Linked DNA regions of Homo sapiens: region 2 is reported to be linked to region 1. Evidence: microRNA targets listed by miRTarBase, many of them from high-throughput screens and not tested one by one. Region 1 holds a microRNA gene; the other region holds the end of a gene's coding sequence.

Region 1 (3,419 bases):
ATATCTACAGTGGAGTAAGTATTGATGGGAGTAGGTTATGCTGTACTCAGGGCTTAGCCTCAAGCAAGATTGGAGTGAAATTTGCAAGCAAACAACCCCATTCTGGACTTGTGAAACCGGCCCAATTGTCCCGTAAAGCTGATGTTGTTTCTTTGAATAAGCATAGAAATTGATCCTCTCAGTCTTAAAACTTGAGAAAGTTTCCTTTGTCTTACCTGAGTTCCTTTCTCAGGGAACCAACCATCAGGTCTCTCAGATAATATCACAGAGCAGAAACACAGCAGGTCACTGCTGTTGGACAGTGAGACATGAAACTCCTCAACTGTCATGATTGCATAACCAACCATCTGCTTCCTGTTGACCAACTCCTCTTCCTTACCCTTTTCTAATTCCTGTTTTCCGACTCATGGTTACATTTTTTCCTTGCTATACAAATCCCTAACTTTAGTTGGTCAGGGAGATGGATTTGAGACTGATCTCCCATCTCCTTTCTTGCAGCACCCAATTAAAGCCTTCTTCCTTCCAATACTCATTGTCACAGTGATTGGCTTTCTGTTTGGCAAGTAGCAGAACTTAGATCAAACTCCTGGTGTTTTGGTAACACTTACAACGTCCGTCCTCTTTCTTATCCATATCCAGGCTTAAGTGTTCAACACAGTCATGGTAATGATTTGACCACCACCTCTAAAATACCTAAAATGCCCTTATTTTCAGGTGATCTAAAAGGATGATAAAGACTGGAGGTTGCACAAATGTTCTGCAAACAGCTGGCACTAAAATACAAGAAGGGGCATCTTGTAGATTTACTCATTCTTAGGACTCACAGGTGACACAAAGTCTTCTCAGGCTTCAGGACGTACAGCGAACTGTAAAAAACTAGCTGTTGACACCCTTTGTTTCCTAGTTAAAAGAGCTAAGCATCTCATCTCCAAACTTTGGATATGGTAATACATCAGGGTACACTTCCAGTGAAATTGCCATAGATTTTACAATTATCTGCTAGCACAGGTGATATACTTTCAGCTTTCCTATTTGATATATAAATCAAAGATCTAGCTCAACTTGGATATCAAAGACCCAATTTAACCTTTCAAATATAACACATGGGCCTATTCACCCACCTAATCCATCTCTCAACTTATTTCTATGGAAATAGCCAAAGAATTATAAGTACCAAGGACAATTTGAATTTACTTGAGAAATGATAGTTTATTCAATAAATGGTGCTATGACAGTTGGTTAACCAGTATTCAAATAAAAAGCATTTAATCCCTACCTCATACCATAAAACAACAAATTCCAAATAAACTTAAAATAAGATCATTTAATAGAAGTTTAAAGAAAAGTTAATATGTATTAATGTAGCCTAAATGAAAGCTTTTCTAGGCTTTTAAGGAAAAGAAAAAATTATAAATAAAAATTGAAAAGTAAATTATGAAAAGAATATAAGGGTGAGCCAAAAATAACATAAGTAAATTTTAAGCCAAATACTAGCTTAAACCAACCTAATAACCAACCTATAACAATAACACATACACACACACACACACACACACACACACACACACACACTGAGAGAGAGAGCGAGAGAGAGAAATGTTTCCTAATATATGACAAAACTGAATATCTGCTAACATAAACAAAAATATGTCCCCAATAAAAGCATATAAGACAGCAAGAAAAGTTGAGCAAAGATAAAAAAAATACAAACCGTCAATAAGTACATTAAGATGCCCAAATCTATTGCTACTAAACGAGGGCAATTTAAAGCAGCACTGAAAATATTTTTATTTAACATATTAACATGACATTAAGTGGAATAAACGCAGCATAAAAGTGAAACTACTCTGTGTTATTATATTTTTAAAATGTTAAGATTATGATCTCAAAGTAATAATAATAATGGTCATTTAAAATTTTAACACAGTTTTGCATTTTTAAATTAAAAGGTATTTTAATAATAAAGCATATGTTATAATACAAGTTTTCATACAGGTCATAATCTGTTTTCACAAGACAAACTGCATGATTTTTGGTGATCTTGACAGTCACTAAAACTCAGATCCATATCAAATTGATAATTTGATAAGCCACTAATTAGCACATGCTCTGTGTAGGGCCCTGAGGTAAGAAAAGCCTTAGTCTACCTGTACACAGAGCTGATGTTTTCTGTCACAGAATATTGAGGTATTTTATGTATCATCACAATTTTAATATATTATCTCATTTAATAAATCAACAGCTCTGCTAGGAAGGTGTTATTGACAGCACCATATAGAAGATAACTAGAAATGAAATGTACTTCACTTACAGAAACCCAAGGGAAATGAGTAGACTAAGTCTTTGGCACTACCTCTAGCTAGAAAATGCTTTTATTTGGCTTCCAACAGCTTACTTACTAGTCCTGAGCCCCTCTGGGTGAATTTACGTCTAGTATTTATGTTTGAGCCAGGTGGTTATCTTTAAGTTACATTAGCATAGGCCATATTGGTTCAGAAGTAGTCCAGCTCCCACTGCTTTGAAAAAAGGTTTTTGATCACCTCATGTCTCTGCTGATTTAGCTGGCCCTCTTCTAAACTCATAGAAAACACTGGGGTTTTTTTTTTGTACCCCAGCATATATGACATCATCTTACTATTTTTGGAATATTTTGTGGGGTTTTTGTATTAATAAAATTTACTTAATTGTAATTGTATAGAATGTAATTTGTGACCTGGTTGTTGAACAAACTTCTAACAAAATTTCCTGAAATTTTAAAAAGCAGCTCTGATGAGTTAGTACAAAATCAGCTCTATCACAAAACTTTGTAACTCATATAACCAAAAGCTCTTTAGGGTTCCCTCAATTATTATTTTTAGTTACATTTTTGAAAGCGATATATAGTATTTGTACACATTTATGGAGTACATGTGATATTCTGATACATGCATGGAATGTGTAATGATCAAGTCAGGTATTCAGGATATCCATAATCTCAAACATTTATTATTTCTTTACATTCAAAACATTTCAAATCTTCTCTTCTACTTTAAAACAGAATATATATTGCTGTTAACTGTAGTCATTCTATTGTTCTATCAAACACTAGAACTGCTTCTTCTATCTAACTCTACATAAATAACCATTAACCAACCTCTCTGCATACTTCACTTTCTACATTCTTTCCGTTCTTTGATAAGTATCGTTCTATTCTTTCTCATTTGTGTGTGTGCTTTACCACTAAGTTTTAAAGTACCACACTTTAATGTGTTTTCATGATGGTAGGAGTCACCCTTTTATTTTCAGATGTATGACTCTCTTGAGCATTGTTTTGTGGGGCCAGTCTAGAGGTGATAAATTCTTTCAATTTTTCCTAGTCTTGAAAAGATTCCATTTCTTCATGATTTTTGAAAGGTAGTTTTTCTGGGTATGGTATTCTT
Region 2 (3,416 bases), not on the chromosome of region 1:
CCCCCTGTCATTATTGTAGGCCTTGAGGATCTCTGCCAAATACTGTTCAGTCTAACCTATATACAAGGTGCCGTATCAGGGCTGACAGAGGGTTTAAGAAACATTTATATTTTCTTAAGTCAGATACTGTCCTAGACACTGCAGATAAAAAGACGTATTTCACACAAGCTCCATCCTCCTGGAAGCCGCAGTCTAGAGGGGAGGCCTCCCAGCTGTTAATGGTATATTCTACAATGCAGTAGCTCTAACACGGGTATGAGGCCCAGAATGAGAATCCAGAGGCGGGATCAACCAACTCTGCTTTTGAAGGCTTCATGGAGGAAGTGATGATGGTTACGGGTTCCCAAAGAATGACTATGAGTTGCACAGGGCAAGAAGGGAGGAAGGAGTTCCCAATCCACCAAGGAGGCCAATGGGCTACTTTGTGTTGCTCCTGAAACACATATACCAAGGGCCAGATAACGGTACCAGCTCAGGGAAGTGTGGCAAGGAGCTCCACAGAGCCCAGGTGATCTATGGCTGCTGAGTGGAGGGAGGAGTCTGAAGTGGGCACCACACCAAGCACTGAAGAGCTGGCCACATTTGTGGAGGGGGAGCTCCCTGCTTCTGTTCCTGCCTCCTAAGCAGAGGCAGTTTCCACAATGCCAACTGTCTGGGTTGTGGTTTGAAAGAGATCAGACAGGGTGCTCCAAGCCGCCCCAAAAGGACAGTTTTCTGGGGACAGGACTTTTCTGTCACATCTTCCTTCAGCGGCTGATTTTCAAATTTTGGTATTCATAAGACTCTCCTGGAGCAGCAGTTCTCCGAGTGTGTCCTGGAGACCAGCAGCATGAGCATCACCTGAGAACTTGTTAGAAACGCAGCTTTTCAGACCTCACCCAGACCTATTCAGTTAGAGACTCTAAGAATGGAGCCCACTCCTCTGTGTCTTAAGGAGCCCTCCAGGCGCCTCTGATTCTGACCTAAGGTGTTCATTACAAATACAGTTTCCTGGCCAGGAATGGTGGTTCATGCCTGTAATCCCAGTACTTTGGAAGGCTGAGGCCGGTGTATCGCTTGAGCCCAGGAGTTCGAGATGAACCTAGACAGCATGGCAAAACCCCAGCTTTACAAAAAAAAATACAAAAAAGAGCTGGGAATGGTGTTATGCACCTGTAGTCCCAGCTACTTGGGAGGGTGAGGGAGGAGGATGGCTTGAGCCCAGGACAGGGAGGTTGTAGTGAGCTAAGATCACATCACTACACTCTAGCCTGGGAGACAGAACAAGACTGTCTCCACCACCCACCCCACAAAAAAAAAAAAAAAAAAAAACAAAAACAGGTTTGAGATTATGAATCATTTGAGTGACCAAACATTTTAAACATTTTGCCAACTATTGCAGCACCTCCATGGGTGTTGCCTTCTCAGCCACACCCCTAAGCAGGCCTCAGCTTTCCCTGACACTCCTCTGCACATTTCTGGGGTCACTTTTACCTGAGCCTGGTATTCAACTCCTCACTATGCCATTTCCTATCAACTTCTCTGAACCTTAGTAACTGCAACTATAAAATGGGACAGTAATACAGATTACTATAAGACAGTGCAGGCTTGTCAAGATTCAAGATGTTTCTGTGCCTATTACCCAGGGTTCAACCCTCTGCTAGTTACAGTGGATAATTACAGGTTAGTTAAGAAAACAAACAAACCTGGAAATATATGGTAGTCAGTGTGTCCCCACCGATGGATCAAAACTGACTAAAACACCTCCAGAAAGCATTTAAAGAGTGTGCCAGGTGGGGATTCTGGGCACTGTTACCTCCTTTCTAGGCCTTCAGCTTCTTGACCAAGGGCCATGTGGAATCAGCACTGTTTGGGTTCCTTCCTCTTGCCCACCTCTGCCCAGGGCACACCTGTGCTTGGTTCCACCTGCAGTCCACCACCCACCACAAAGGCCTCCAATCTGGATGCAGACTCATATATGAAGATGTTAGGAAGAAGAATTTCTGTGTATATTGGGATATTTGATGGAATGGCCTTGTAGAAACTTTTCCAAACTTGAGAGACTAGGATTGATCTGGCATTACTTGACCAACAAGTTGTTCTGAAGTCTTTGGCAGCAAACATCTCTTCAGAAAGTTCATTCTTGATTCAGTGGTCCCTTTCATGATTGAATTATGCTCAATGACTTCCTCAGCACATTTCCAGAATATTAAGGCTTCCTTCAAGAATATAATATTTGAACAAAATCTGTCGTCTCTTTTGATATGGGGTGATATATTAGCTCTATTATGCTTTTAAATTAGTTGGTTTCAAATGATGTATCCTGGATCAGGCCTCTGGAGCTTGAGATAATTTCTCTCTCTCTCTCTCTCTCTCTCTCTCTCATACACACACATACACAATCTACCTAGAAAAAGATCATTCTAGAATGTAGGGGGGTGAGGAATTTGTGGCTCTCACTTGCTATAGAAAAGACAGTCTTGAATCCAAGTTCATGGTTCACTCCAGGCTGATGCAAAATGCTTTCTTCCTCAGATGGTAGCTGAGTGCTACAATTGGCAGCTTAAACAGCCAAACGGGCACAGCCAGAAGTAAATACAGCTGGACGTTAGCCTTAAAAGCTGTCTGTTGTGAATGAAAAGTCTGAGGTGAGTCAAGCAAATTGCAAAGATTGGCAGGTGAGGAGGTGCTACCCTGTACGGCATGGGGAGAAAAAACATGGCAAAATGCTTGGATGAGTCAACTTCCCTGCTGTAGGTGAGGCGATTTGGATGAAGCATCCATACTTTTAAGAGATACAAGACTGGTGTGTCTGGGTGTATTGCTTCGCAGGTAAATTGAGTGTTGCCTAAATTCTGAACACCTCTTAGCCAAGAGCCAGCATCCCTGTTCTTTTCACTGAGGCACTGAGGCATGTGTGAGTTCATCAGAGGATGCCAAAGTGACAGTCAAAACACAGAATCCTCCAGGGTCTCAACTCCAGGCTTCTCTATATAACAGATGACTTCAATTTCCGTCTCACTGGACCCAGCTTTCTGCAAAACAAATCATCTTTCCTTAGATGTCTTTTAGAGAACTTTTGGGTTCTTTGAAATCTTTACAATTGGCTTTAAGTCTATTATTTTTTAAATAAAAATAGTAAATGTTCACAAAGAAGATGTGAAAAATAAAGTGGGAAGAAGAAGAAAATACCTAGCCATACATCTATCTCCCAAACACAGCCCACTGCTTCTCCTAAGCCTTTCTTTCTAGGCATAATGTTTTCTTTAGACTTACTTGAAGTCATATGGATACACATCTTTTTTTTTTTTTTTTTTTTTTTTTAGACAGAGTCTCACTCTTGTCACCCTGGCTGGAGTACAGTGGCATGATGTCGGCTCACTGCAACCTCCACCTCCCAGGTTCAAGTGATTCTCCTGCCTCAGCCTCCCAAGTAG

Evidence for each region. Region 1 holds the annotated microRNA hsa-miR-4300 (UGGGAGCUGGACUACUUC, at 2,496-2,513, opposite strand). A microRNA usually pairs through its seed, bases 2 to 8, with sites in the 3' UTR of a target mRNA and lowers its output. Matches are read on the target gene's strand: a 7mer-m8 pairs with bases 2 to 8, a 7mer-A1 pairs with bases 2 to 7 and ends in A, and an 8mer does both.
Region 2: the mRNA of IL5RA is a reported target of hsa-miR-4300. Seed matches in the 3' UTR shown: 7mer-m8 at 592-598.

The regions. Positions count from the first base shown.
Region 1 is chr11:81,888,256-81,891,674 of GRCh38, forward strand. MIR4300 (microRNA 4300) reads right to left here and starts at 2,581; the gene lies at 2,486-2,581. All of the region lies in intron 6 of MIR4300HG (MIR4300 host gene), which reads right to left.
Region 2 is chr3:3,067,298-3,070,713 of GRCh38, forward strand. It overlaps IL5RA (interleukin 5 receptor subunit alpha), which reads right to left. Exons shown (of 12, transcript NM_175726.4): 12 at 1-3,014. The coding sequence ends at 2,928. Among named protein-coding and RNA genes, the nearest start is that of CNTN4-AS1, 7.9 kb to the left of the region's middle.